Homo sapiens: one gene and its partners. The gene in region 1 interacts genetically with each later gene. Each region holds a gene or a part of one and is shown in the gene's direction. Other genes may lie near its edges. The genes, in order: GFI1B, HBS1L, PAXBP1 and CMAS.

Region 1 (7,742 bases):
AGGGTGGGTGGGAATCTTATTGGACAGTACAAGGATTTTCAAAGGCTCTGGGACCAGATGGCTCCAGATCACCCAGGGAAAACAGCCTGATCAAATGGGATTCTTCACTGTCTGTGCCACAATATCCAGACCCTTGGTTGAAACATCAGCAAACACCACCCCCTCTTAGTCTAGAGGGAGGCTTTTCGTGTGTTCCTTGCCAGGAATTCAAGCCAATGGGAGCTGCTTTAGTCTATAATATAGAGATATGCAGAAAGAGTTTCATTCACTCACTTGTCTTTTTATTTTGATAAAATACATATAACATAAAATTTCCCGTTTTAGCCATTTTCAAGCGTACCATTCAATGGTATTAAGTACACCCACATGGCTGTGCAACCATCACCACCATCCATCCACAGAACTGTTTCATCTCATAAAGCTGAAACTTCATACCTATTACACAGTAACTTCCATTCCCTTCCCCTCACCTCTGGCAACCTCTATCTATTTCTGTCTCTATGAAATTGCCTATTTTAGGGACTCATATAAGGAATCACACAGTATTTGTCCTTTTGTGATTGGCTTATTTCACTTAGCATAAATCCTTCAGGTTCATCCATGTTGTAGCATGCGCCAGCATTTCCTTCCTTTTTAAGGCCGAATAATGTTCAATCATATGTCTAGACCACATTTTGTTTGTTTGTTTGTTTGTTTGAGACAGAGTCTCTGTCACAAAGCTGGAGTGCCATGGTGCGATCTTGGCTCACTGCAACCTCTGCCTCCCGGGTTCAAGCGATTCTCCTGCCTCAGCCTCCTGGGTAGCTGGGATTACAGGCACCCACCACCATGCCTGGCTGATTTTTGTATTTCTAGTAGAGGTGGGGTTTCGCCATTTTGGCCAGGCTTGTCTTGGAACTCCTGACCTCAGGTGATCTGCCCACCTCGGCCTCCCACAGTGCTGGGATTACAGGTGTGAGCCACTAAGTCTGGCCATAGACCACATGTTGTTTGGACATTCATCTGCCATGAAACCTGGGTTGCTTCCACTTTTTGCCTATTGTGAATAGTGCTGCTATAAACATGAGTATGCAGATATCTCTTTGAGTCTCCCCTTCCAATGATTTTGGGTCTATACCCAGAAGTAGATTCACTCACTTTTGACATTGCATTCTCTGAGCTTTGGAGGAGACATTTGAGAACTCCTTCTAAATTTCAAATAAAAATGATGATTTAGACCGGCCTGGGCAACATGGCAAAACCCCGTCTCTACAAAAAATACAAAAATTAGCCAACTGTGGTGGTGCATGCCTGTAGTCCCAGCTACTCGAGAAGCTAAGATGGGAGGATCGCTTGGGCCTGGGAGGTGGAGGTTACAGTGGGCCAAGATCAAACCACTGCACTCCAGCCCAGGTGACAGAGTGAGACTCTGTCTCAAAATAATAATAATAATGATGGTGATGATGATGATGATTACTTTCTGCTGGGGCCCCTGGGCCTGACCTGGGCTCATTTTCCCCCGACTCCTCCACGGACAAGTCTTGTTTTCCCCTTGAATCTTTTTTTTTTTTGACAGAGTCTCGCTGTGTCACCCAGGCTGGAGTGCAGTGGCGCCATCTGGGCTCACCGCAACCTCCGCCTTCTGGGTTCAAGTGATTCTCCAGCCTCAGCCTCCCGAGTAGCTGGGATTACAGGTGCCTGCCACCACACCCAGCTAAGTTTTGTATTTTTAGTAGAGACGGGGTTTCCCCATGTTGGCCAGGCTGGTCTTGAACTCCTGACTTCAGGTGATCCGCCTGCCTTGGCCTCCCAAAGTGCTGGGATTACAGGCGTGAGCCACCACGCCCGGCCTCCCTTGAGTCTTTAAACATAAAGGAAGTCAAAAAGGTTCTCTGTAGCTGACCCTGAGAACCAGCTGAGTCTTACCCAACCCTCCCAAAAGGGGAACCCGAGTGACAAGTCTTTTAGTCAAGGTGGTTCAATCTCTCACTGAAGGTCAACGAATTCTACATGGGATTTTAGAGCAAAAGGGAAGTTTAGAAATCTCTTAGCCCAACCGTCCCTTTTAAGAGATAGGAAAACCAAGCCCCAGGTTGGTGGCTGATGCGGTCACAAGCTCCAGGACCCCAAATCAGACTCAACTCCTTGGGCAACAAAGGGGCCTCATTACAGGGACATCACAGGCCTGTTGACCCAAGTCCAACTGGAAGTTAGGGTGCTGGCTCCTGCCAGGGTGCAGGGTCGCCTGTCTTCAAGAAGCACTGACTGAGATTCTGACTCAGGGTCAGGGGGACTCTATCAGGATCGGGGGTTATGGAGTGATAACAGTGAGCCTCTTTCCGGAGGTCCGATACCATCAAGTCCTCTGTTTTATGAAGAATTCCTGAGCTTCTTTCATAATCTCTGCTCTTAGCTCCTTCTCAGAACGGAGTTCATGTCAATCAAAACCAAGTGGTTGTTAATTAACTACAGTATAGGTGATTGGTTCCTGTTTTTTCTTTAAAAAAAAAACAACTCTGCTAACAGGGGCCAAAAGGAAGTTCACCGGGTGCATTTGGCCCCTCTGTGAGCCAGAGGGCTTGGCCGTGGCGTTGGCTGTGTCACTGTCACTTGCCAAGCTCAGGGGAGAGAACACTGGGGGGAGGCAAGAAAGCGGGTGTGGGGCTCAGGGGAGATCACTAGAAGAAGCATGAGAATCACCTTCCTGAGGCTGGAGAACCCCAGAAGCCAGCCCCATCTTGCCCTGTGCCTAAGTGAAAAGTGCTTGGCCAGGGCTCATGAGCGCTAGAAAGTGTCCTTGTTGTGGGGCCCAGGGTTAGAGTCAGTTGACCTGGGTTCTCCTTAGGCCCTGAGCCCAGGAGAATACCAATGCTTCCTGAAGGGAAGTCTGTCCCTGGCCTGGCCCCACCAAGACTCTTCAGGAGCCATGTGGGTCTTTTAGGAGCCTGGAAAAGACTTGAGGGTCAGAGGGTTTGATTTTTCTCCCTCCTTTTTTTTTTTTTTTTTTTTTGAGACAGAGTGTGGCTCTGTCACCCAGGCTGAAGTGCAGTGGTGGTGTGATCTCGGCTCACTGCAACCTCCGCCTCCCGGGTTCAAGCGATTCTCCTGCCTCAGCCTCCTGAGTAGCTGGAACTGTAGGCAAGTGCCACCATGCCCGGCTAATTTTTGTATTTTTTGTAGAGACGAGGTTTCACTGTGTTGGCTAGGCTGGTCTCGAACTCCTGATCTTGTGATCCGTCCGCCTCGGCCTCCCAAAATGTTGGGATTACAGGTGTGAGCCACTGCACCCGGCCTGATTTTTCTCCCCTCTTGCCCCAGCACCCTGCATTTCCCTCTGTGCTGCAGGCGGTGTTCACCGGGTGCTGTGAGGACCTCTGACAGTGCTGGGTGGCACAGTGGCTTGAGAGTAAAATCCTAACAGGCCAGGAGCCCTGGGTCTGAGTCACTTTCCTCTCTGCACCTCAGTTTTCCCACCTGCAACCTGGGAAGACACTGCTTGACACGGGCACACGAGGGAGCTTCAAACTGCTGTTTTCATCCCTAGCACGTCGGCTCCACTCCCTCTGCAGAGAGAAGCCCATGCCGGGCACTGCCCAGCACTTGGCACCCATTCTGCACCGAGTAACTGCCCACCTGCTGGGCTGAAAGTCAAGAGCATGGAGGCCTGGGGCCAGACAGACCCCAGTCCTTCCCTGCTCACTCTGCCCCAGGGTCCTGAGCCCTCCAGGCTTCAGCTCCTTCTTTATAAAATGGGACAGCAGCGGGACTCAGCATCTGGATTAAGCATCAGAATTAAAGGTGTAATAAACAAGGCAGGCTAAGCAGCCCCCTGCCAGAAGGTTTGACCAGCTCCTCTTCTATCACAGAAGCCTTGGCGAGTACCTTTGGTTCTAGTTGATTTCCTCATAAATATTATGCGCAAAAAAGGATCATCTTTTGATATTTTGATAGGCAAACCATGACCCTCACAGGCCCCCTCAAAACAAAGTGCAAGGGGAACCCCACACCCCCAGTCCTCCTCCTGCTCACTGGGTCCCCTCCTCTCCCCCTAGGGTCTGGCCTCCCCATGGGCTTTCTTGAAGCGAAGAAGAGTTAAAAGCGGGAAGGAAGGGGGGTGTGGGGAGCCCTGGTGAGGGAGGGGGAGGAGGCAAGAGGAGGAAGACGTGTCCCTGGGAGATAAGGCCGTGGGCTGCCCCCGGCCCGAGCCTGTGTTCAGAGAGCCGAGAATCTGACCGCGGGAAGGGACCCCAGAGGCCTTCAAGGTCCTTTCTCCTAATTTTAGAGCTCAGAGAGTACAGGGCCTTGAGCGCGGCCCTGGCTTCTGGGAGGCTGCTGCAGCCCTTGGCACAGGGCTTACCCCGTCCTTTGAATGCACCTGCAGTGGGCTGGGTGCTGGGATGCGGGGGAGCACATGCTGAGCACCTCTCACACTCGCTCCTGATGGATAAAGGTCCTTTCTCGCTCCCCACCATCCCATGTGGTTGGATTGGGATCCCCGTTTAGCAGATATGAGCACTGAGGCTCAGTGATGAGCCTTACAGCAGGCAAGGGCTGGGCCTGAGCTTGGCCCCCTGTGCAGAGCCCCCAGTCCAAACTCTTGATGCCCCCAGGCTCTGGGCCAGGGGGAAGCAGGCCTGGGCATAGTCGGGTCCCTCTTCTGCCTGGCTGTGGTTCATCTCCTTGGGGAAGGGGTGAGTCCCTGGCCCTTTTCCAAGCTGCATTCTCTAATCTCCCACCTCCCACCCTGCTCCTGGGCCAAGGCCTTATCACCCAGGCCCTCACTGCTGTTCTGAAGCAGCTGTGATCCCTCTCCCGCCTTCTCCGGACCCTATCACCCCTGCAGCCTTGCATGGCGGCTGGCCCAAGGGGTGGGGGGGTGGGACTCCTCTGACGCCTCAGGCATGGGCCTGGTGTCGGCCTGGGTGCAGCGTGGGGGCAGAAAGGATAGAGGACCACCAGAAGATGCTCTCCAGAGTGCCCGGGGGAACCTCACAGGCTGAGTGCAGGGATGTGAACCATTCTGGGGGCCAGGCAGGGCTCTCAGCTCCAGAGGGCTCTGCAGGGGAAGCCAGGAGTCCTGGGGTGGTCAAGTTGGTCCAGCCCTGTCACTCCCTGACTCTGCCTGGGATGGTCCCTTGACTGATGTGGTCCTTGGTTTCTTCTCCCACTCCCTGACTGGTGGGGTTGGTAGTGATGCTGGGCTGCCCACGGAAGCTGGGGGCTGTTCGCCTCTTCTCCTGTGTCCATGAAGCCTCAGGCCTCCAGGTGCAGTGGAGTTGGGGGTCCTCTCAGGTCTTGAGTCCCCACACCCCACTCCTCAGAGAGAGAAAGCCCCTGTCTCTCTAGGGAACAGACTCTGGGCCAGGGCTGTGGACAAGGCGCAGCCGTGCTCTGGCGGCTGTGGCTTGCGGCTTGCAGGAGCACGTGGATTGGCAATGTCCCCTCGTTTGCTGCAGCTTCTCTGCCAGAGCCCCCAGTGATAGACACTGAACACCTGTGATGCACCTGTCAGCACTGCAAGCCTGGACATCCCCACTTACAGCAAAGGGGATAGGCCCAGAGAGGTTAAGTGTGTGTCCCAAATTGCACAGCAAGTGAACTGAGATTCTAACCCACGAACCACTGATTCCAAAACCTAAGCTCAGACCACCCGTTTCTATGGCCTCTGAAGGTGAATCTCACTGGTACCCAAATGTAGCTTTCTAGAATTGGGGTCCACTGTGTGTCACAGAGGGAGACCCCAGTCCCTGCCTTTCCTTTTCTGCTCCATTGCAGCCCAGGTCATGCCAATGGGAGCAGGCTTGTCTGAGCGTTTTCTAGGGGGCGATGCATTCATTTCCTGGTGAAGGAGCAGTGAGGGAAGTTAGGATTTGTAGCTGCCGTAACAAAATAGCACAAACAGGTGGCTTAAAACCAACAGAAATTTATTCTTTCATGGTTCTGGGATCTAGAAATCCAAAATCGAGGTGTCCGCAAAGTGGGTTCTTTCTGCAGACGCCAGGGGAGAGGGTTTCATGCCCCTCTCTGAGTTCTGGCGGCTGTCGGCACTGCCTGGCATTCTCTGGCTGATAGAAGCTCCGAGTTCTGGCGGCTGTCGGCACTGCCTGGCATTCTCTGGCTGATAGAAGTGTCACTCTCTGCTCTGTTGTCGGCACACGGCGTTCTCCCTGGGTGTCTGTGTCTCTGGGTCCAAATTTCCATCTTCTTATAAGGACACGAGTCATCTTGGATTGAGGGCCCATCCTAACCCGGAATGACCTCATCATAACTTGATTACATCTGCAAAAACACCCTATTGCTAATAAGGTCACATTCACAGGTTCTGGGTGGACATGAACTTTGGGGGCCACTGTTCAACCCAGTATAGCTGGTGTTTTATCTCAGGAGGAGGTTCTGAGATATGGAGGGGTATTGTTCTCTTGTCCTTCCTAACCGCTCCCATCCCTCCCCCTTGCAGGTGTGGGGTGCACACTGAAAATGCCACGCTCCTTCCTGGTGAAGAGCAAGAAGGCTCACACCTACCACCAGCCCCGTGTGCAGGAAGATGAACCGCTCTGGCCTCCTGCCCTTACCCCGGGTGAGTCAGAGCCCGGGCTGGCGCCTGCTGCACCCACGGGGGGCTCTCTGCTCTGCGTGATGAGGGTGCAGCAGCGTCCCTCCTGCAGCAGCCTCTTCTTCCAAGTCTGGAAACAGGAGTGCAGTAACTGTGGGTTGCAGATGAAAGGAGTAGACAAATGAGTGATGCCCTCATCCCTTCTGCCCTGTTAGGGAGACGAGAGTGTCAGGTTGGAGCCAGTACTTAGTTACTGGCATGTGGGGCCTCACTGGAGGCCCAGTCTAGGGCTGGAGTTGGGTTGCTCAGAAAAACAGACTGGTCCAAAGTCTTCCCCGGGGTCTCCTCCTGGCCTCTTCTTGCCGCCGCCTGCTCTGGGCAGAGCCCGGGAGTGTGAGCCGCCAGAAGCAGCGGCACGTGGCTGTCTCTCTGGGCCTCCTCCTCCTAGGAAGGGCGTGCCCTCCTTGCTCCCTCTGGGCTTCCCAGAAACCGTGGCTATTGATGCTGATGGTCCTATCTCCCCACAGTGCCCAGAGACCAGGCTCCAAGCAACAGCCCTGTCCTTAGCACTCTATTCCCAAACCAGTGCCTGGACTGGACCAACCTCAAACGAGAGCCGGAGCTGGAGCAGGACCAGAACTTGGCCAGGATGGCCCCGGCACCAGGTACCCCGCTGTGACCCACTGTCATTCCCCAGGGAGTGCCAAGGGGAGGAAGGATGAAGGGACTCTTGCAGCAGGGCCCCTTGGGGCCCTGGAGTCAGGAAGGACCCACGAAGTCACTGGATGCAGCCCGGGCTCTGTGGCTTCTGCTTGGGCCTCTCAGACAGGGAGCTAATTCCCGGATGTGGGCTAGGTGGGAGAAGAGGCCAGAAGCAGCAGCTGGGCCGGTCCGTGCAGGGAGTGAGGTGGGCACTGTGGAGTGAGGCTGGGGGTGTCTCTGGGCTGGAAAAGCTGAGGAGCCACAGTGAGGACCCAGACATTCCTGGCAGTAAGTATCTGGGTTGACACCCTGAAACCCTCCACATGAGGTGATGAAGGTAGTGGTGTGTGGTAGAGGGTGGTGGGAAGGGGGTGCCCTGTGTTTATTTTATTTCATTTTATTTTTTGAGACAGTGTCTCACTCTGTTGCCCAGGCTGGAGTGCAGTGGCACGATCTCAACTCACTGCAACCTCTGCCTCCCAGGTTCAAGCAATTCTCCTGCCTCAGC
Region 2 (7,742 bases), on another chromosome or scaffold:
AAGCAGGATTTCTACGTTAAGGAATGCTTCATGGAGGAGAGGTGGTTGGCCTCAGGGAGCACCTTGGCTTCTTGAGGTTAGGTTGTCATGTTGTCATGCTTCTTTGAAACAATTGGTGACATCATAACCAAGCTGTTCCTGTAACATTAAGGAGGTTCATCCCCTTTTCTTGTTTATAAAAGTTGTACTCATTAAGGTCCAGTTTATTTCTCTTCTTCCCAGTTAGGCTTTCTCTTGAATTCTCAGAATAATAATTTAAAAATTCTGTTAAGAAATATAACCTCATTAGAGAGAGTTTGTGTTCTAAAACCTACTGGTTCCGCTACTTAACTCCCACTTTGTTTTTCTCTGTAATTTATGTAATACTTTACATGACTGCCTCAGTCACTGATTTAAAAGTCTCAGGAAGGCAAAATCCATACTTTAAGTAGCTGGCACAATGTTCTTTACATGTGGTAAATATTTCATAATTTTGTTGATTGAGGAAACAAACTATGAAGATTGCAGGAAAGAATTCTCTTCATCTTTATATGTTGTGGCACTTTAGGGTCAACTTCAGCATTGACAAACTGACCTAGTAAAAAAGAGTTTTTTTTCTTTTTTTTTTTTTTTTAAGAGACAGGATCGCACTTTGTTGGTTGGCCAAGCTGGAGTGCGAGTGCAGTGGCATGATCATAGCTCTCTGTAACCTCCAACTCCTGGGCTCAAGCAATCCTCGTGCCTCAGCCTCCCGAGTAGCTAGGTCTACAGGCATGTGCCCCCATGCCCGGTTAATTTTTTATTTTAGTAGAGACAGCATCCGGCTGTGTTGCCCAAGCGAGATCCTCCCTCCTCGGCTTCCCAAAGTACTGGAATTACAGGTGTGAGCCACGATGCCTGGCCTATTGTTGTCTTCAATATCTAAAAATACTTTGTTTGTGAATGGCCCCTTGTTTATTTGCAAATAAATTTTTATTAACTTGGGATTGTGATCTAATAATTTATTTAATCATATATGTTTTTGCCCAATAGTAGCATTTATCTAATTTTTCTTTGCTGTAAGCATTTGGTCTCAGCCTTTGAGCATGCTGTTCCTGCTGCATGAATACCCTCAGAAACTAGCTAACTCTATCCTTTGGAATTGGTTTGGATATTATATTAATGGGGATCTTTCCCTAGCTGCCCCACTCCCGGTTCTAGTTTTGTCATTCATGTGTGTGTTCCCAAATTGCTCTGTGTTTCTCACATCAGGCACTTGTCACATGGTTTTGTAATTGCCCATTATCTTGTGTGTATTCCTTGTCAGATTTTAGGTGCAGTGATAACTGGAAATGTGTTCACTGTTATACCACAGTTGTCTCAACTACTCCCTGGCATGGTGTTAGTGTTTGTCAAATGAAATTTATGTAAATATATTTATGTTCTTTGTGGGTTTTTAGTTGTAATTAGTTTGATTCATTAATTTATAATAAAACAAATATTAATCTAGTGCCCCATATGTGCCAGGTAGTTGGCTAAACCAAGTCTTGCCCTGAAGAAGCTGATAGTCTCATGTAGTGAACAGGCGTAGCGCTCTGTAAATTGGGTAAGTGTGCTGGAGGGTAACAGTAGCAGAGGGGCTTACTGCTTTACCCAGAGTGGTCAGGGAAGACTTGTGCAAAGAGGAGACATTTGAGCTGGAACCTTAACTAGCAGAAAGAAATGGCCTCGGAAAATCTAGGCAAAGAGCATATCCCAGGAAGCAGAAAAAAAGGGCAGTTAGCCATCAGCAGGTGGGCATAGGGAGTTTAGGGTAAGTTGGTTTGTATAGATGTTACCTAGCTCTCCATAAAGAAATACTACTTTCATGATCTATTATATACCCCCATGTTCTGTGGAAGAGAAGTGCTTTGGTTTTAGAGGGCACATGGTGAAAAAAATGGTTTATTTCAGATTTTTGTCAACACTGGAGAGACTAAGTATTTTTTTTTCTTTTTTTCTTTTTTTTTCTTTTTGAGACGGAGTCTTGCTCTGTCGCCCAGGCTGAGTGCAGTGGCGCGGTCTTGGCTCACTGCAACCTTGCCTCCTGGGTTCAAGTGATTCTCCTGCCTCAGCCTCCAGAGTAGCTGGGATTACAGGTGCACGTCACCATGTCTAGCTAATTTTTGTATTTTTAGTAGAGACGGGGTTTCACCATATTGGTCAGGCGGGTCTCAAACTCCTGACCTCATGATCCACCTACCTCGGCCTCCCAAAGTGCTGGGATTACAGGCGTAAGCCACCGTGCCTGGCCTCAAGTATATTTTTTATAGGATTATTGTATTTGATCCTATGAGGTGAAAACTTGGGACCTGGGTAAACCCAATTAATTTAACAACTGAAGAACTGTGTATGTCTTTATAAATATAGAGTTAGTAAATAACCTATTTTGTGGGTGAAATTCTTAAGAGTTTTTTTGAAAATAGACATTCTAGGATCCTTAAATTTTGATAAACAGTTTATTTTGGAGAGGATTCAGATGCTTCCTCACTAGTAACTAAGAATATAAAAAGAACTTGTAAATGAATTTATCTCTTTTGTCTTTATTTTAGATTTTGAAGATGATGATCTCTACGGCCAGTCTGTAGAGGATGATTATTGTATTTCGCCGTCAACAGGTGAATTTTTAAAAATAATTTGATTCCTTAGATTTGGTGTTTAAAAATGTAAATGTTAGTCGTTCAAGGACTGGAGTGTTCTGTGAGACTGTAATATATAACATTTAAAAAGTTAATTATATGTTAATTATTAAAGGCATATAAAATAATTTCTTTTCCTGTGAGTAGAATTTAAATTTGTGATTCTATTATTTAGTTTTAAATAATGTGAAAAAGACTGTGGCTTCTTTTCCACCATACTTTGCATCATGCAGTTAATCTAAATATACTAAAATGGTAATTTAGTCAATAATGAAATTCTGAAGCCTCTGGAGGCAGGCAGCCATTATATCCTCAAGGATCTTTTGAGTATTAGAAACTTGGAGGTGTTATGCCTAGACTTTCCTTTATACAGTACTTTAGTTTATCTGTTGAACAGTTTGGTAAATAAACCAATATATGTAGTTCAGACTTCTTTTGGAGCCACAGAGGAATTTGGCATTCATATTTCTGTATAATTCCACATCAGAGCTGCATCTTCTAGATTATCAGCCCAAAGATTTCTTCTCTGCCACCATATAAGGAGAACATTGATATATTCTTCCCAGCAAAGGCTGAGTCATTAATCCTGATCCTCCTGTCACTTATTTCTCTAACACTACATTTGTCTCCAAATTTCAGCCTACTGTCTACACAGGTTAAAATGCCCTGCTAAATTTTAGTATGGTGTAGGCCAGGTACGATGGCTCACGCCTGTAATCCCGGCACTCTGGGAGGCCGAGGCAGGTGGATCACCTGAGGTCAGGAGTTCGAGACCAGCCTGGCCAACATGGTGAAACCCCGTCTCTACTAAAAATACAAAAAGTAGCCAGGCATGGTGGCGAGTGCCTGTAATCCCAGCTACTCAGGAGGCTGAGGCAGGAGAATTGCTTGAACCTGGGAGGCAGAGGTTGCAGTGAGCTGAGATCACACCATTGTACTCCAGCCTGGGCAACAAAAGCTAAACTCCATCTCAAAAAATGGAAAAAAAAATTTAATATGGTATAAAAAGAGTGTATAATAGTATATTTACCTGTGGTTGGGTATAGCATAAATATAATTTATAAAACTCATTTTTCACAAGTTTAAAGGTTTGATATAATTAACATTTCTTTCAGAGCCTTCTGCCATGGTCTGAATGTTTGTTTCCCCAGATTCACATGTTGAAATTCTAACCCCAAGGTGATGGTATTAGGAGGTGGGGCCCTTGGGAGGGGAGGTGATTAGGCCATGAGGGTAGAGCCCTCATGAATGGGATTAATTTCCTAGTGAAAGAGGTCCCAAGGAGAACTCTTTCCCTTCTGTCATGTTAGGACACAGCAAGTAGGTGCTGTCTGTGAGCCAGAAAGCGGGTGTTCACCACACACAGACTGCCTTGATCTTGGACTTCCTAGCCTCTGAACTGTCAGAAATTTCTGTTTATAAGCTACCTAGTTTATGGCATTTTGTTATAGCAGCCTGAATGGACTAATACATCCTCCTTGTCTTAATTACCCTCTAGTCCGCTGGGCTGTCTTATAAACTGTACCTGCTTTCATCCTATTTTTAGCCTCTGCAGACCAAATATGCCCCTTCTGACTTTTATAATTTCTTTTTCTTTGTAAAGGCATAGATATGCTAGAAGTTGTCTTTATCATATCTACTCTGTCATCCTTTTCCTGTTAACTGGTTATTCTGAAATGCATCTAGCTCTTTATGTACAGGCCTGCTCTTCTGGTCAAGTACTTTTCTCATTTAGCTTAATCATGGCTTTTCCTCTCATCTTTTAATGTTTCACTGTTATCAGTCTATATTCTGTTAGGAGATAAAAATTGCACCAGTTATTTTATCAGAGAACATTTAACATCAAAAGTTGTTAATGAGGTATTATAGAACAAATAATGCAAAAAGTGCAACCAGGATATCAAGAAGGTAGTAAGTTCAGGAAGCACTTTACTGTCCCTAGTTCTTAGGGGAACAAAAGGCAAGGTTGAAACCACCTTTTAGAAGCTGATGGAGGCTCCTTGCAGCTGTGACTTAGACCTTGAGGAGAGGGTTCTTTGCTGCTTTGCCTCTGAAGTTCACAAGAGGGACTGTGGGGCCAGGACTCAGACCTCTGGGCAGGGAGGCACTGCATGGCTGATGCTGGTGCCTCAGAAGGTCCCTGAATCTTAGAGCTGGGATTCAGCCTTTTAAAGAGGGGATTCCGCCTTTTAAAGAGGGGATTCCAACCTACTGGCTGGTCGTGTTGTCTGGGGAGTGAAGAGGCAAATTGAAGCTGGTTCTGGGAGTTTTGGAAAAACTGAAAACGGATATTAATTGCAGTTACTGGAAGAAACTGCTTCTGGAAGGTGAAGTGAGTATTGCTGGGGTGATACTGGAACAAGAAGCAAAAGGAAAGGAGCATGTGCCTGCCTTCTCTGGCTTTCCGGTGTCCCTTTCATATCTCCTTATTGGATGATCCTAAAAGGGAGCCGGGTATCAAAGAAGAAATGTGCTTTGCAGTGACTTCAATCCAGCATCACAAAGCTGAGTAAAGGATGGTAGGTTAGAAGCTGAGAGGTGGCTTAATAAGCAGCATTCCTTTATAGCTCCTTATTCAGGGGTTCAAAAGAGAAGACATTTTGTAGTGACTTAGGAATAAAACAATTTCACATTTTTCTAGGAACCTCCTAGGCATTTGCCCTTTGGGGCTCCTATAATTCAGCATCACAGTTGACTAGGTAACTTAAATATTAGAGGTGACAAAGTGATGTCTGGTAGTGCTATCCTCATCACTCACATTCTAAGCACATTAGAGAGCATGGCATATAGAACTGAGAAGATGATATGGTTATATTAGATTTGAGTTAAAAAAATCTCTAATACATAGTTAATGGATTAAAGGTGGTATATGGGTGGATGTAAGTAGACTCGTTAGGAGACTGTTATATGTATTTATCTAGAGGAGATGAGGCTATTTTAGGACAGTGTTCTCAAAGTGAACCATCAGCATCGCTTGAGAGTTTGTTAGAAATGCAATGTTGGGGACTCCACCCAAGAGTCAGAAACTAGGAGTGAGGCATAGCAGATGTTTTAACAAGCCCACTGGGGTATGCTCGTGGTATGCATTGAGAACCATTTGTTTAGGGCAAGAGTTGGTAGCATTGGATTTGGAAATACATTCAAGAGAAAATTTACAGGAGTTGAGGTCTGCAGGACTTGGAAGTTGGTTGAATATGGCTTTGTATAAGCGTGGAATCTTTCAGAGGGGGGATTACTGAAAGACACCTTAATATTGCAGGTTAACCCAGTCATTTATCTAGGCTTCTCTGGATAAATGTTATGTTATCTTGAATAATAAGGTAATAGTACAAAGTCAGACCTTCAAAGGGTGTTTCTCTGAGACTTGCATTTATGGCCTAGCTTCCTTGAGGACAGAGACGGAGTTTATCCATGTGTCTCTCATAGCTTTTGATGTGGCTCTTACCTGTGGTTTGTATTCAGGACAGTCTGACTCTGAGAGTTACTTTTCAAACACACCAAGAAGCCAACTGATCTTATCAAAGCAGGAGATAGTTAAATGTTTTTGGTTTCTTCTGTGACAAACTGATTTTTAACAAAAGCATACGACTTTGGATTTTTAAATTTTTCAAAACATTTTAAAATAGCAGTAACATCAGATAAGAAACTTACTTTCCTCTATAGTGGTATATTTTCCAAGTAATTTTCAATAAAAAATGAATGGTTTTAGAAGAATATTTTCTATTCTTAAGCAGCTAATGTCATTGAAAAGCTGATTGTATTCATGGTGTAATGAAGTCTGATAATTGAAAGACTTTATCAATTAATTGGAATTTCTTTCTAAAATTCATCAGCACGTGTATATTTTTTTGAATTCTATTAAGCTCAATTTTCCTGGTCTCACTATGCTGCCCAGGCTTGTCTCAAATTCCTGAGCTCCAGTGATCCTCCTGTGTCGGCCTTCCAAAGTGCCAGGATTATAGGTGTGAGCCACCATGCCCAGCCTAGGATGGTGATTTTTAAACGTTAACTTTTCTTTCTTTTAGAAAGATTGATACTGAGTATTGAACCTATGTCAAAGAGTAGGGGGTAGCAAAAGGAGTTTGCATATAAAACTTTATTTGAATGGTGATGTATTTTGTTTCAGCTAATATGATTAGAAGTAATCTTTGTTTGCTCCATTCTAATTTCACACCTTTATTGTATATTCTTTTTTTTTTTTGTAAGAAAAACACTATTCTAATACATTTATAAATTAGTTTGGTATAAGGAAGCTTGTTTAAAGTCTTGTTCAAATAACTTGCTACAACAGTACTGTGGGTAAAGAAAATAACCCTGACTGAAGGAGTCTGGGAAGGCTTCTAGAAGGAGGTGGGATTGAAGCTAGGAAATTTGGGAGTAAGAATGGCATCCCAGCTAGAGGAAACAACGTTGCTTAAGCAATGGCCTCTGAGTGAGGCTTGTTTCATCAGACTACCAGGATTAATGCAAGTGGCAGGAGGAAAGAGGGCTAGGAAAGAAAATAGGAATGAAATTGTGAAAGACAGTTTCTAATTTTGTGTTTTTAGTGTCAACTTATTGGAGTTTTTTGAGTAAGGGAGCTAGTATTTTGTGCAGATAACTGATCATGGTCCACAAAGTGGCGTATAGGTGGGCCAGAATAAAGGGGAGACTTGTAGTTCACCAGTGTTTCTTAATCTTACCTTGTGATATGAATCTGCTGGGAATCATTTTTTTTTTTTTGAGACGGAGTCTCATTCTGTAGCCTAGGCTGGAGTGCAGTGGCACGATCTCGGCTCACCTCAACCTCCACTTGGCTCCCAGGTTCAAGCAGTTCTCACGCCTCAGCCTCTCAAGTAGCTGGGATTGCAGGCGCCCGCCACCACGCCTAGCTAATTTTGTATTTTTAGTAGAGATGGGGTTTTGCCATGTTGGCCAGGCTGGTCTTGAACTCCTGACCTCAGGTGATCCACCTGCCTGGACCTCCCAAAGTGCTGGGATTACAGGCATGAGCCACTGTGCCTGGCCAGAATAATTCTTAAGAATACAAATTTCCTGCTTCATTCCAGCACCACTGAGTCATAATCTCCCGGGGAAGAAGCCTAGAAATCTGTATTTTTAATGAAT
Region 3 (8,448 bases), on another chromosome or scaffold:
AGATTACTTGAGGTCAGGAGTTCAAGACCAGCCTGGCCAACACAGGAGCTTGTGGGGTGTGCGGATCATCTCTACTAAAAATACAAACATTAACTGGGCATGGTGGTGCACGCTTATAATCCCAGCTACTTGGGAAGCTGAGGTGGGAGGATTGCTTGAACCTGGGAGGCAGAGGTTGCAGTGAGCTGAGATCACGCCACTGCACTCCAGCCTGGGGATAGAGTGAGACTCTGTCTCATTGCTTGAACCTGGGAGGTGGAGGTTGCAGTGAGCTGAGATCGCGCCACTGCACTCCAGACTGGGTGACAGAGTGAGACTCCATCTCAAAAAACAAAAACAAAACAAAACAATAACAACAAAAAAGTTTTAAAAAATAAGAAAGCTTATAAAGTAAAAAAGTTATAGTAAGCTATTTATTATTGAAGAAAGAAATATGTTTAAACATTTAGTGTAGCCTAAGTGTACAGTTGTTTATAAAATCTACAGCAGTGTACAGTAATAACCTAGGCCTTCATATTCACTTACCACTCACTCACTGACTCACCCAGAGCAACCTCCAGTCCTGTAAGCTCCATTCCTGGTAAGTGTCCTATACAGGTGCACCATTTTTAAAGCTTTTATGCTGTATTTTTACTGTATCTTTTCTATGTTTAGATACAGATACCATTGTGTTACAAGTGCTACAGTATTCAGTACAGTAACATGCCGTATAGGTTTGTAGCCTAGAAGCAATAAGCTATGCCATACAGCCTAGGTATGTAGTAGGCTACACCACTAGGTTTGTGTAAGTATGTGATGAAATTGCCTAATGGCATATTTCTCAGAATGTATCCCCGTCAAGTGACAAGTGATTGTATTGTGGCTTACTTTAAAATGAGAGGTACTCTTCCCTCTATCCATATCCAATCACCACTTTTACACTGGGAGAAATTTTTGAAATTTCAGGCCACCATAATAACATATTTGGCTTCTGGACCTTGTCTTTGCTACCTCTACCCTAATTATTTTACTGCAAATCTTTCTCTTGGCTCAGGTGTCTGGAGGCTGATCAGGCACAATTTGAATCTTCTATGATTAGAAAAGGGAGTTCAATTTCACTAGTGAAACACTGTTGGAATCAGAACTTACACCAATGCTGAACAGCCAGAATATAAGAACTGAGAGTAACATAAGTAGAATGGAAGCCAGATGTTATTAACCCTTCCTATTAACTAGAAGAAAATGTTAATGTTATAGAGGATGCTCTTAGCTCCAAAACTGAGTCCTAGTTGTGCACATGTCAAATCTAATTAAAAATATAAAAATTAGGCCGGGTGTGGTGGCTCATGCCTTAATCCCAGCACTTCAGAAGGCCGAGGCAGGCGGATCACAAGGTCAGAAGTTTGAGACCAGCCTGGCCAACGTGGCAAAACCCCGTCTCTACTAAAAATACAAAAATTAGCCAGGTGTGGTGCCAGGTGCCTGTAATCCCAGCTACTCGGGAGGCTGAGGCAAGAGAATCGTTTGAACACAGGAGGCAGAGGTTGCAGTGAGCTGAGATCGTGCCATTGTACTCCAGCCTGGGCGAGAAGAGCAAGACTCCGTCTTAAAAAACAAAACAAAACAAAACAAAAATACAAAAATTAGCCGGGTGTGGTGCCAGATGCCTGTAATCCCAGCTACCCGGGAGGCTGAGACATGACAATAGCTTGAACATGGGAGACAGAAGTTGCAGTGAGCTGAGATCGTGCCACCGCACTCCAGTCTGGGCCATAGAGCAAGACTCCGTCTCAAACAAATAATAAATAAATAAATAAATAAAATAAAAAGAAATGCTTGGAGTGCTCGGGATCTTCCACTTCAACCTGGAATTTAAATCTTACTGAAATTTCTACAGGATGGTGTGGGCAAACAGGCATCCTAATGTTTGCTGATATAAGTGCAAACTGCATAACTTCTATAAAAAGAAATTTAGAATTAGCAAAATCATAAATGCATATATTGAGATCTAGCAATTTCAATTCTATTTCATCCTACAGATGTAACAGTTTTTCAAAGCTTTTCATTACAGCACTGATTAAGACTAGAAATAATCTAAATATCAATGTTTATGGAACTGGTTAAATAAATTACGGTATATCCCAACAATGAATCACTACGCAGGTGGGTTAAAAAAAAAAATAGACGGCCGTGCGCGGTGGCTCACGCCTGTAATCCCAGCACTTTGGGAGACTGAGGCGGGCGGATCACGAAGTCAAGAGATTGAGATCATCCTGGCCAACAGAGTGAAATACAAAAATACAAAATAAATTAGCTGGGCGTGGTGGCACGTGCCTGTAATCCCAGCTACTAGGGAGGCTGAGGCAGAAGAATCACTTGAACCTGGGAGGCGGAGATTGCAGTGAGCGGAGATCGCGCCATTGCACTCTAGCCTGGGCGACAAGAGCGAAATTTAGTCTCAAAACAAACAAACAAAAAACCAAAAAAACACAACCCTTCATATACAGATATGGGCCGATCTCCAATCTACGGTAGGCTAAAAATGCAGCTTACACACCATCTGTGTAAAAAGGGGAACACATTAAAATATGCATATTTATTTGCTTTTATGTTCATGGAACATCTTTAGAGGATCATAAGAAACTGTTAACATTGCCACTGAGGAAGTGAACAGCCTTCCAGACATGGGTGGATTTTTTTCACTCTACCGAATACCCTTTTAATTTCGAAACATCAAAATGAATTCGCATGCACAGGTGCATGCCCGAAGGAAAAACTTCTAGTTCGGTGATGAGATAGGGAAAGCCGGTGAGTTCAACCTTAGGCGCAATCACCCTGTGAAGGTGTGGCCAGCGAGGGCTTTGTCACGCAAGTCTGAGAACTGTCACAACCTTCCCCACCCCCTGCTCTATTTTCCTTCCACTTGTTTCTGAAACTCACTAAGCTTTGGAAAGTATTTAGTCATAGAATTGCTTGCAAACTTGGCATTCTTTAGAAAACACGGAAACACTTTTGCTTTCCTTGTTCCTGAAAGACTGGGGAACGGGGGACATCAAGCCAGGTAACATTGTATCATAACTGAAATTCAATGTCTTTGAAGTAACATTGTACCATAAATGAAATTCAATGTCTTTGAAGTAACATTGTATCATAAATAAAATTCAATGTCTTTCTAAGAGCTCTGTAGCTATAAAGCTGTAGAAATACAAAGTATTACTCAAGAATAACTAGTAATTACCAATAGTCACACCTCAGGTCAAAGTTTGGAGAGGACTATTCCACCTACTAGATCACACTTTCCTTCCCGAAAGCCGCTTCTCTCTCTGGCCTCTCCCCTCCTCCTCCTCCCTCATCTGTTTGGCGGGAGGCTTCCTCACATTACCGCTCCGCGTAAGTGCGAAGACGCACTGCAGCAGCGCCGTCTGAGGGACAACAGAGCCTACTCTTTCTTCTCATCTCTATGATCCTCTTTGTGACCTGTCAAACAACACCAGAGTTCCATGCTAATAGTACTCCACTCCGACAGAGAGCGATGCAAAGAGCCGACGCTCTCGCGAGAGGTGTGGGGCTCTCTCTCTCTCTCTCGCTCTCTCTCTCTCTCTCTCTCTCGCTCTCTCTCTCTCTCTCTCTCTCTCTCTCTCTCTCTCTCTCTCTCTCTCTCTCTCTCTCTCTCTCTCTCTCTCTCTCTCTCTCTCTCTCACTCTCTCTCTTTCTCCAAGTATTGAGAGCGCGTGGGAGCATAGGCGCATGCGCGCTCGTGGGGTGCGCGGTAGCAACAGAGGACTCGACCCGGCTGGAGCTCCGGAGAGCGCGCGTGCGCCGTCACGAGCTCGGCGCTGCCGGGGCCGCGGTGTGGAAGCGAGTATTCGACCGCCGTGCGGGCCGCGGGGATGTTCCGAAAGGCCCGGCGGGTGAACGTGCGCAAGCGGAACGACTCCGAAGAGGAAGAGCGGGAACGCGATGAGGAGCAGGAGCCGCCGCCGTTGTTGCCGCCGCCGGGCACGGGCGAAGAGGCGGGCCCCGGTGGCGGCGACAGGGCCCCTGGCGGGGAGTCGCTGCTGGGCCCGGGGCCGTCGCCGCCTTCCGCGCTGACCCCGGGCCTCGGGGCTGAGGCCGGGGGCGGCTTCCCCGGCGGCGCGGAGCCCGGCAACGGGCTGAAGCCGCGCAAGAGGCCTCGCGAGAACAAAGAGGTGCCCCGGGCCAGCCTGCTCAGCTTCCAGGACGAGGAGGAAGGTAAAGTGCGCGCTTCGGACGCCCTTAGACGGCCGCATCCCCGACGCAGGCCCCCGTCCCCCGCCCCCGTATTCTCTGGACGCCCAGCCCCGGAGCCCTGGAACGGAGTCCCCTGCCGTCCGACCGGCTGCGAATCTTCCCCAGCCTCCGGCCTTCTGCTCGGGCAAGGGACGCGTTCCCGCGCTGCCCCCAGCCTTTTCTTAACCACCTCCTCTGCCACGGGGCCGGAGCTCAGATCAGGCATTCAGAGTGTTTCAGGGGAAATTCGGTGTTCCCTGTCCTGCCTCTTTTCTGCCTGGCGTGTTTCAGGGCCAACTTGGTGTGGGTCCCCTGGCTGCTCTTGGCATGCTTTCCGAGCCCTCTGCAGGTCACTGCGCCCACACTTCTTGGATGCTCTGTCCAGGCATCCTCGACCATGAAGGCCGAGTTTGTAAAAAGGAATACTAGGAGAGGGAACAGAAGCCTGGAGTTGCAGCTCTGGTTCTGAGTGACCTTGGGCCAGTCCCTTGCAGTCGCTGAGCCTCAGTTTACCCATAAAAGTAATTAGGGGTAGCAGATACCCAGCCTTCTTCGCACTGACTTTGGGAACAGTGAAGCGAGACGGTGTAAAAATAGTAAAAGCAAGGTAGTTTCTCCAATTCCTGTGGGAGGCCAGGCTGCAGTGGTTTTAGATTGCTGATCTTAAATGAGCCTTAAATCTTTTCTTCTGACCATTTGAATGTGCATAACCCAGTTAATTCCATGTTACGAAAAAAGAAATTAAGTTTTGTAAATCTTGCATTTTTATTCGAGAGGTTTCCAGTAAGGTAGGTAGTTTATCTTTGGCATTTCTGTTACTCTTTATTTGGTTTGAGAGGAGTACAGACAGATTTTTGTTTTTGAGATACATGAGCTATTTTTTTTTAAGTATTTAGTACTTTTAAAATTTCAAATCAAAGAAAAGTGATTTGCCCTTACCTTAGCTTTAAAACCACTATGTCAGCTTGTGGTGGATGTAGTTACTCAGAATTGACAGCACCTTTTTATTTTAGATATTTTGTTTCGGATTCGTTAATAACTTGGTGATGTGGTTTTTCAGAAACATTTTGAATGATTTTTTCCCCTCTCAAATAGATGATTTAAGGACGACAATAATAGGAAAATTTTGTGAAGTTACATGTGCTATTCCTTTAAAAAGTCTCAAAAATCTCATTACTTCACAGTAATTTAGGAAGTTGACCTCTGTTTTTGAGTCTGTGACAGACTTGAAATAATTATACAATGATTTTGGCATATGAGTATATATATTTGGGATAATTTGGACAGCACGTAAGATCATGTGAAAGAAGGGAAAATATTTTCAGAAAATAGTTGCTACAGACTTCATTTAATTTCCTTTTTAAGAAAATGAAGAAGTTTTCAAAGTGAAGAAATCAAGTTATAGCAAAAAGATAGTAAAATTGCTCAAGAAGGAATATAAAGAAGATCTTGAAAAATCGAAGATTAAGACAGAACTCAACTCATCAGCTGAAAGTAAGTACCAAACTAATTGAATTCTTTTGAAATGACAAAATGAAAGCTCTTTCTCACAGTGATTTGCTGTATATCTTCTGAACTCATTCAGTGGACCCTGTGGTTGTCAAGGGCCCTTATTGAGTAGCAGTACAGTTCTGTTATTTAATTGTAACACAGATGCTTTGTAAATGTATTTTATAAGAAGACAGAATTGTTGCCACTGGAACATTTCTGCTGCAATGACTAGATTCTCTCACAGTTTTCCTACTTGTGTGCAGACTGCTGTTGAACAGAGAAAGAAGGTTTCTCATTTTAGCCTAAGACACAGGTTTATTTCTGTTTGAAGGAGTGTTGTGCAAATTCTTGTATTTTGTAGAGACAGATTTGCGATTTCTTTGGTGGTATTTCCACAGTGGATTTTATTCTTAGAGAACTTTTAGGAATGCCCTAAATTTAATATTAGTATTACTCCCATTCAGCAGCCTTATCTGATACTAGATGAAGACTCCTTAGAATAATGAGGCAGGTATATTGTACAGACATCTCTTACGTCTCTCAAAACCTCAGTTTAAAAAATTTTAAGCGGTTATTTTGTCTTTAGGAAAGTGGATCCAGTATAATATTCTATGGTCTGAGTTATTCTCCTGCAAATGCTATTTTATTTTATGGAATTAATGAGAAAATCATGATTTTCCAGATTCTCACTTACAGGCTTATTGTGAAAAAGTATGGCTTTGTATCTCAAATTTACAATCTAGATGTGAAGACAATATCTCATAAATGTGTAAGAGGACTCAGTGTTTGGCAAAATGTTCAATCAGTGTTCCAAAGGGTGGCTACTCTTTCAGAGGAGAGAGGACTGCTTTATGGAAAAAGTGGGACTCGAAGATGGATCTTTGATAGTTAAAATTCCGAAAGGGAAGGTATTGGGGGTATGATCAAGGATTAAAATGACTAAAGCTGTTTTGGAAAAGAACAAGTACACCTGACAGGTCAGAGTAGATGATTTGTGAAGGAAGTAGTTAGAAGTTTCATGTGAAAGATACGTTGACAGATTGTGAAGGATGTTCAGTATCCAGTAAGGGTTTACATTTGCTACAGTGGCTTGCCAAGATGGTGACATGATAAATGCGTTTTGAAACTTTAGCCTGGTATTAACATGCAGCATGAGGAGAGATTGGAGGCCTAAAGCAGTTTAAACTCAAGGGCCAGCTTTGATCCATTAATAGTGGGTTTAAAAAGGTCTCACAGTTGAGCAAGAGTAAAGGCTTCTACTGATTTAGTAGGAAATTCTGGATGAGTTAAAAATGTTTTCTGTTGTTTTAGGGGGAGAAGTGGAAAGAAAGAATGATTTGAGAACCATTCCAAGGGAAGAATTGATAGGCTTAATATACACTTTGCCATATTGGATTTAAAAGAAAGAGTCAAATTTGAACTTTTGTCCTGGAGTGTCTTAATCCATTTTCTGCTCCTGTAACAATACTACAGACTAGGTAATTTATAAACAATAGAAGTTTATTTGGTTGACAGTTCTGGAGTCTGGGAGGGCCAAGAGCATGGCACAGGCATCTACTAAGGGCCTTTATGTTGTCATAACATGGTAGAAGGGCAGGTGAGTCTCCAAGACAGAGAGAGAATATCCTGCCAAACTCATCCTTTTATCAGGAGCCTGGGATAATGGCATTCACCTTCTCATGTTGTAACTGCCATTTAAGGGCCCCACCTGTTAATAACGTTACAATGGCAATTAAATTTCAACATGAGTTTTGGAGAGGACACTCAAACCATAGGGTGTCTTGGTTATGAATAATTATATATAGGAATAGAGAAGGCAAGTGGAAGGAGGAATGTTTTTAGGAGAACTGGTTATTTTGGAGTCTAGGAAACTGCCTTATTTTCCTCAGAATTCTTGAGACCAACTATATATGATGAGAGTAAAAGAAAGGTCAGGATAAGTGACAACTGAGAAAGGCCTGTTGTCATGGTTGTTGTATTAAGTCTGTTTTCATGCTGCTGATAAAGACATACCCAAGACTGGGAAGAAAAAGAGGTTTAATTGGACTTACAGTTCCACGTGGCTGCGGAGGCCTCAGAATCATGGCAGGAGGTGAAAGGCACTTTTTACATGGCGGCAGCAAGAGAAAATGAGGAGGAAGCAAAAGCGGAAACCCCTGATAAACCCATCAGATCTCGTGAGACTTATTCACTGTCATGAGAATGGCACGGGAAAGACCAGCCCCCATGATTTAGTTACCTCCTCCTGGGTCCCTTCCACAACACGTAGGAATTCTGGGAGATAAAATTCAAGTTGACATTTGGATGGAGACATAGTCAAACCATATTAGTTGCCATTTATTGTTGGGTTTAGAAATTGAAACAAGTGTGAAGTTGATGAAGCCATCTCTGACCTCTTCCATCCTTCTATCCTCATTGAATTCTGATACTCCACTCACTAGATAACTCCAATTAATGTCCTCTGAAGGCGGAGTCTGATTGTATTGTAGGTTGTCATTGGTAACACTGAAATGAAGGTCTGTCATTAATTGGCAATCCAGAACTCTTCCTACCTTCAACCCTCTATAGTAGGCAGAGACAATTAACTTCAAAATAACCACGGTATTGACTTGAGAACCCCATTTTTCTGATATTCTTAAAATAATGAGTTCTCTTTTTAATTTGAATTTGAGTGGAAGTAGTCAGTGAATACCTAGAGATGTAGATTTGGGGGTGGTGCTTATTGCG
Region 4 (7,193 bases), on another chromosome or scaffold:
ATAATATTTCTTGTTTATTCAGTAAATATAAACATAACTACTTTTAAATGGGAGCTATCTAATGTTTCCCAAAGGATCTTGCAGCAAGAAAGATTCCCTAGATAATAGGTGTACCATTTTAGAAAAGGACGATATCCTGTGGATTTTTAAAATCTAGCTTATTCTTATGAATGACATTTTTGATTCAAAATAACTTAACGTTTAAGTGTATTTTTTTAAATGAAAGCTAGCTAAGATAATTATAATTTACCAGAAATCCTAAATATGTATTGCTAAGCAGCACAAGAGAGAGGTTATAGACTTTCCTCTGGATAAATTGAATTATAGGAGAATCTTAGAGTAGTATCAGACAATATATGTTGTAATTTTTACCTGTAGATAGAATCCTTTCTATTGTAGAAAATAAAATACTGTGTCTCACCTTTATTGGGCTATGAGAAATAAAATGAGCTTTGTTTTAAAGCATCATGATTTTAATTCGACAGTCAGTTTTCTTACTTGGACCTTCAGAAAGTCAAAAGATGACTCGTTTGTGATTTGGACTGTCTACAAGGTCAATTATTATGAAAGATTTCTGTTTTCTTCACTTTTTAATTTTTCCCTTCTTCCTCCAATCCTTTTTTTTTTTTTTTTTAAGGTGAGGCTAATCTCAGAAAGGGCCTGTTCAAAGCAGACGCTGTCTTCTTTAAAACTGGATTGCAAAATGGAAGTCAGTGTATCAGACAAGCTAGCAGTTGTAGATGAATGGAGAAAAGAAATGGGCCTGTGCTGGAAAGAAGTGGCATATCTTGGTTGGTATCTTTTTATTCACCCATAGTAAAATGGACCAGGAATTAATTATTTACTTATTTTTAAAGAAATGACAAAGCACATCCTCCAAATGGGTATGATTGTAGGGAAATAGGAACTCTTTTAACAAACACTGCTGATCAAACTGTTAAACTGGGACAGTCTTTCTGGAGGTTAGTTTGATAATAGGTATCAAATGTAGAATGATTATTAGCACAAGCTGTGAAGTCAGACTGTACCACTGATTAGCCAGTTGTGATAAGATGAATGTTGTTTCCTCATCTGTAAACTGGAGATATCGAGAGTACCTATTACCGTAGGGCTCTGGAAGGGATTAATAAAATAATATGAGTAAAGCACTTAGCAGAATTTCTAGTACATATGAATTACACTCTGAATAGTTTTTGCTGCTAATTGAATGTACATACTTTTTCCTCCAAATTCCAATTCCAGGAAAGAAATGAGACAAATGGGCCAATAGTGAAGTTAAAAGAACCCACTTAAATGTCCTGTGAAAAATAGAATATCCCTAAAAAGGATTACTATGCAACCATTACAAACAGTGCTGTGACCTGTATTTATTTGCATGATCAAATATAACAATGTTTTTCACTTGGATATTAAGCAATACACTTACTTACCAGGTACCTATGATGATACGCAGCATGGAACTGGTTGTGGGAACTGTAGGCTTTCTGCTTGCAGAGCTTACAGTCTGATGATGTCAACATTTTAAAATTGATAAGTTATTAAGATGCATAATAACTATAAATCATGTATGAAAGCAGTATTTACAAGGGTAATATGAGCCTCAAAATAAGAAGCACAGGAAAAACTTTGGGAGCATGTGATCTAGAGACTTCAGGAATAACCCTTAAACCACACATGAAGATTTAATGGACATAAATGCTGCAGAATGTTTGTTAAAGACAGATCCAATTTTTATTAGAAGAAAATTTTAGTGGAATGTATAACAAATTCCAACTATACTTATTATCTTTCTTTGGGATGTTAAGCAAGCTTCTGTATACCTTAGTTTTCTACTTAGAATATAAACACAAACCAAATTTTATAAAGCCATTAGAAAGAAAAACAAAGATAATATAAAATGCTTAACATAGTGCCTACAGATAGTAATAAGTGTATCATTTATATAGGTAAAACTCTAGAATTATATGTGTCAAAATGTAGTGATTATCTACAAATAGTGATAATTAGGATGATTGTGACTTTTTTGCTTCTATTTTTTAAAAAAATATTTCTACCACGAATACGTATTACTTATATGACATTAAAAAAAAAACACACACACACACACTTTAAAAGGAGAGGTAAGAAAATGGAGAAGAGCATTTACATTTTTATTTAAAACTCACAGCAGGCCAGGCATGATGGCTCATGCCTACAATCCCACCACTTTGGGAAGCGGAGGCAGGCAGATCCCTGGAGCTCAGGAGTTTTAGACCAGCCTGTGAAACATAGTGAGGCCCCATGTCTACAAAAAAAAAAAATAATAACTCACTCACCAATGTTTTATATGGGTGACATAAGTGTATAAAAATATATTTCTTAAAAAAATCAATACTTTTATAAGTAAAATTTAGTAAATAGAGCTTAAAGGCTGGATTATGCAAATACTAACTTTTTTTATTTTAGTGAAAACGATTCAAATTTCAACACATTTAATAATAAATGAGAAAATTTCAGTAGATAAGCATAGAACAAATGTAAAAGAAACTCTCTTCAACCAAGATTGTACTATTGTATGTGGTCTAAAGTATAGTAATAGTTTTACTCAGAATGGTGAATTAAAGATACTGGGAGCTTCTGAAATGCATCCTATTCCAAAAAAGGGGTTAACAGAGAGGGAGGAAAAGGATATCGTTATGTCAGTATGATTTAGTATCTATTTTTATTCTTTAAAAATGGTAATTTTTCAGCAACTATTAATAAATGGCATACCAATCAGAACCATTACAGATTAAAAGAGATTTAAGAGATTATATATATATAAACAAAAGACCATATGTTAACCTTATTTCATTCCTGATTCAAATAAGTCAGCTATAAAAGGACAATTTTGAGACAGCTGGGGGTATCTCAACATATACTAGGTTATTAGAGGATATTAAGGAACTATTACTGATTTTGTGGGTTTAATGATATTCTGTCAGATAAAAAATTATATTTATCAGAGATAAATATTGAAGAGTTTTTGGATAAAATATTATGTCTGGGAATTCCTTCTTCTCCCTTTCCCCAAATAAACTAGGGGGCAGTGCATAGAAAACAATATTACTAAGTGATTTTAAATTCTGATAATTTTTCAATATAAAATTGGGGTTCTCGCATATGTTTGAAATTTTGCTTAATGAAAAATTTAAATAACTTACTTAGAATTCATATATAAAATTTCTAACATTTGTAATATGCATGGCAGGTAGCAATTATGCTCCATTCTTCTTCTCTAGCTCATAAGAGTTTATTTTTGATTGCTTAGGGAAAACCCTGGACCTCAATTATACTGTAAAATATTTTTGTTCCATCTAATCTTTAGTATTCTTATATGCAGTGCCCCTAGGTCTTACTGAAGTTGCCAGAGTTACCTGTTGGTTGCTGTCTGCATTATTTAGCTAGAATATTCTTTGTCTCTTTAAATGTTTGCTCAGTATTTATTTTACTTGATAGGAAATGAAGTGTCTGATGAAGAGTGCTTGAAGAGAGTGGGCCTAAGTGGCGCTCCTGCTGATGCCTGTTCTACTGCCCAGAAGGCTGTTGGATACATTTGCAAATGTAATGGTGGCCGTGGTGCCATCCGAGAATTTGCAGAGCACATTTGCCTACTAATGGAAAAGGTTAATAATTCATGCCAAAAATAGAAATTAGCGTAATATTGAGAAAAAAATGATACAGCCTTCTTCAGCCAGTTTGCTTTTATTTTTGATTAAGTAAATTCCATGTTGTAATGTTACAGAGAGTGTGATTTGGTTTGTGATATATATATATTGTGCTCTACTTTTCTCTTTACGCAAGATAATTATTTAGAGACTGATTACAGTCTTTCTCAGATTTTTAGTAAATGCAAGTAAGAACATCATCAAAGTTCACTTTGTATTGTACCCTGTAAAACTGTGTGTTTGTGTGCTTTCAAAGATGTTGGGATTTTATTTATCTGGGGACAGTGTGTATGGTAAGACATGCCCTTCTATTAATAAAACTACATTTCTCAAACTTGATGAAAACTGCCTTGTTGCTCTAGAAGAAATTTACCATGCATTTTCTTTCTTTCCTTTAAACATTAACCAATCTTAGTGAGAAACAAGCCACTCGATGCCGGGGTAGAGCATCTGATTGTACTTCACATATGTATACGTAACAGCATATGGTCTATGTGGGGGTTGGTTCCAGGACCACCCACATATACCAAAATCTGTGCATACTCAAGTACCACAGTCAACACTGTTGAACCCACATATACAAAAAGTGGGCCCTCCATATACTGCATGATTCACATGTATTTTTGATCTGCACATGGTTAAAAAAATTCACATAAAAGTGGACCACACAATTCAAACCCATGTTGTTCAAGGATCAGCAGTATACACAAATACAAATATCCAAATAAATTTATATATTATGAAGATTATGTATTTATTTGGAGGAAGCAAATTATTTGCAGTTACCCCTGAGAGATAATGGTAATTTTGCATACAGGAATATCTTAGAGATATTACGGGTTTGGTTCCAGACCGTTGCAATAAAGCGAGTCATAGGAATTTTTTGGATGCCAGGTACATAAAATGTTATGTTTAAAGTAAACTGTAGTCTATTAAGTGTGCAGTAGCATTATGCCCAGATAAACAGTGTATATACCTTAATTTTAAAATATTGCTTAAAAATGCTAACAATTACCTGAGCCTACAGCGAGTCAATCTTTCTGCTGCTGAAGGATGTTGCCTTGAACAGTGGTGGTTGCTGAAGGTTGAGGTGGCTGTGACAGTTCCTTAAAATAAGACAACAATGAAGTTTACCACATCAATTGACTCATGAAAGATTTCTCTCTAGTGTGTGATGCTGTTTGATAGCATTTTACTCACAATTGAACATCTTTCAAAATTGAAGTCAGTTCTCTCAAGCCACTGCTTTATCAGCTACATTTATGTAATTTTCTAAATTATTGGTTGTCACTTCGTGTTCATAGCATCTTTACCAAGAGTAGATTCTATCTCATGAAACCACATTTTTTGCTTATCTGTAAGAAGCAACTCCTCATCCATTCAAGTTTATCATGAGATTGCAGTGATTCAGTTACATCTTCAGGCTCCACATCTAACTTCATTCTCTTACTATTTATACCATATCTACAGTTACTTCCTCCACTGAAATCTTGAGCCCCTCAAAGTCATCCATGAGGGTTGGAATCAACTTCCAAACTCTCATTAATGTTGATATTTTGACCTCCTTCTATGAATCATGAATTCTGTTTTTTTGTTTGTTTGTTTGTTTTGAGATGGAGTCTCGCTCTGTCGCCCAGGCTGGAGTGCAGTGATGCAATCTTGGCTCACTGCAAGCTCCACCTCCTGGGTTCACGCCATTCTCCTGCCTCAGCCTCCCAAGTAGCTGGGACTACAGGCGCCCACCACCATACCCGGCTCATTTTTGGTATTTTCAGTAGAGACGGGGTTTCACCATGTTAGCCAGGATGGTCTCGATCTCCTGACCTCGTGATCCACCCGCCTTGGCCTCCTAGAATCATGAATGTTCTTAATGGCATCTAGAATAGTGAATACTTTCCAGAAAGTTTTCGATTTACCTATTTCCAACAGAGCAATCACTATTGATGGCAGCAATACCCCTAGAACTGTATTTTTTAAATAACAAGACTTGAAAGTTGAAATTATGCATTGATCCATGGCTTCAGAATGGATGTTGTATTAGCAGGCATGAAAAACAACATGAATCTGCTAGTACATCTCCATCAGAACACGTGGGTGACCAGGTGCATTGTTCATAAGCAGTAACATTTTGAAGGAATCTCTTTTTCTGAGCAGTAGGTTTCAACAGTTGGCTTAAAATATCCAGTAAACCATGTTATAAACAGTTGTGCTATCACCCAGGCTTTTCTGTTTCATTTATACTGCACAGGCGTGGTAGATTTAGCATTATTCTTAAGGGTCCTAGGGTTTTTAGAATGGTATTGAGGATCAGCTTCAATGTAAAATCATGGCTGCTTTAACGTTCTAACAAAAGGATCAGCCTGTCCTTTGAAGATTTGAAGCCAGACATTGACTTTTTTCTAGCTATGAAAATCCTAGATGGCATCTTCCAACAGAAGGCTGTTTGGTCAACACTGAAAATCTGTTGTTGAGTGTAGCCACCTTCGTCAATCATCTTAGCTAGATCTTCTGGATAACATGCTGCAGCTTGTACAACAGCACTTGCTGCTTTTCACCTTGCATTTTTATGTAATGGAGATGCTTCATTCCTTAAACCTCATGAACCAACATCTGCTAGCTACCTGCTTTTCTCCTGCAGCTTCTCCATCTCTCTCAGCCTTCATAGAATTGAAGTGAGTTAGGGCCTTGCTCTGGATTAGGCTTTGGCTTAAGGTAGTCTTGTGGCCTGTTTGATCTTCTTTCCAGACCACTTGAACTGTCTTCATCTCAGAAAGAAGGCTGTTTGACTTTCTTATTATTTGTGTGTTCACTTAAGTAGCACTTTGAGTTTCCTTCTATAACTTTTTCTTTGTATTTAAAACTTTGCTGACCATTTGGCACAAGAGGCCCAGCTTTTGGCCTATTTTGGCTTTTGACATGCTTTCCTCACTAAGCTTAATTATTGCTAGCTTTTGATTTACAGTGAGTGATGTGTGACTCTTCCTTTCACTTGAGTACTTAGGGGCCATTGTAAGCTTATTAATTGACCTAATTTCAATATTGTTGTGTCTCGGGGAATAGGGAGGCCCAAGAAGAGGAAGAAAGATGAGGGAGCAGCTGGTTGGTGGAGCAGTCAGAACACACACAATATTTATGGATTAAGTTTTCTGTCTCTATGAGCATAGTTCACAACCCCCAAAACAATTACAACAGTAACATGAAAGATCACAGATTCACAGACCATCATAACAGATATAATAATAATGAAAAAGTTTGAACTATTGTGAGAATTACTAAATTGTGACACAAAGACATGAAGTCAGTAAATGCTGTTGGACAAATTGTGCCAATAGACTTGCTTGATGCAAAGTTGCCACAAACCTTCAATTTCTAATAAACAGTATCTGTGAAGTACAATAAAGCAAAGCTCAATAAAACATGGTATGCCTGTATTATATATGGTTATTGTCACAACTTTACAGCTGACATAAATCACTCTTCTACCTGATTAGATTCTAACAGTGGAGC

What was found.
Region 2: changes in GFI1B (region 1) and HBS1L together harm fitness more than expected from each alone (negative genetic interaction), as found in Homo sapiens cells (one large-scale study listed by BioGRID).
Region 3: changes in GFI1B (region 1) and PAXBP1 together harm fitness more than expected from each alone (negative genetic interaction), as found in Homo sapiens cells (one large-scale study listed by BioGRID).
Region 4: changes in GFI1B (region 1) and CMAS together harm fitness less than expected from each alone (positive genetic interaction), as found in Homo sapiens cells (one large-scale study listed by BioGRID).

What each region holds. Positions count from the first base shown.
Region 1 is NC_000009.12:132,980,223-132,987,964, forward strand, and holds part of GFI1B (zinc finger protein Gfi-1b), read left to right. Parts: intron 1-6,436; 5' UTR 6,437-6,456; coding exon 6,457-6,556; intron 6,557-7,059; coding exon 7,060-7,197; intron 7,198-7,742. UniProt on the Homo sapiens protein: Essential proto-oncogenic transcriptional regulator necessary for development and differentiation of erythroid and megakaryocytic lineages.
Region 2 is NC_000006.12:135,045,455-135,053,196, reverse strand, and holds part of HBS1L (HBS1-like protein), read left to right. Parts: intron 1-2,549; coding exon 2,550-2,615; intron 2,616-7,742. UniProt on the Homo sapiens protein: GTPase component of the Pelota-HBS1L complex, a complex that recognizes stalled ribosomes and triggers the No-Go Decay (NGD) pathway.
Region 3 is NC_000021.9:32,767,090-32,775,537, reverse strand, and holds the start of PAXBP1 (PAX3- and PAX7-binding protein 1), read left to right. Parts: upstream 1-3,782; 5' UTR 3,783-3,869; coding exon 3,870-4,212; intron 4,213-5,595; coding exon 5,596-5,724; intron 5,725-8,448. UniProt on the Homo sapiens protein: Adapter protein linking the transcription factors PAX3 and PAX7 to the histone methylation machinery and involved in myogenesis.
Region 4 is NC_000012.12:22,061,644-22,068,836, forward strand, and holds the end of CMAS (N-acylneuraminate cytidylyltransferase), read left to right. Parts: intron 1-637; coding exon 638-791; intron 792-2,129; exon of another isoform or gene 2,130-2,284; intron 2,285-3,477; coding exon 3,478-3,668; 3' UTR 3,669-4,025; downstream 4,026-7,193. UniProt on the Homo sapiens protein: Catalyzes the activation of N-acetylneuraminic acid (NeuNAc) to cytidine 5'-monophosphate N-acetylneuraminic acid (CMP-NeuNAc), a substrate required for the addition of sialic acid.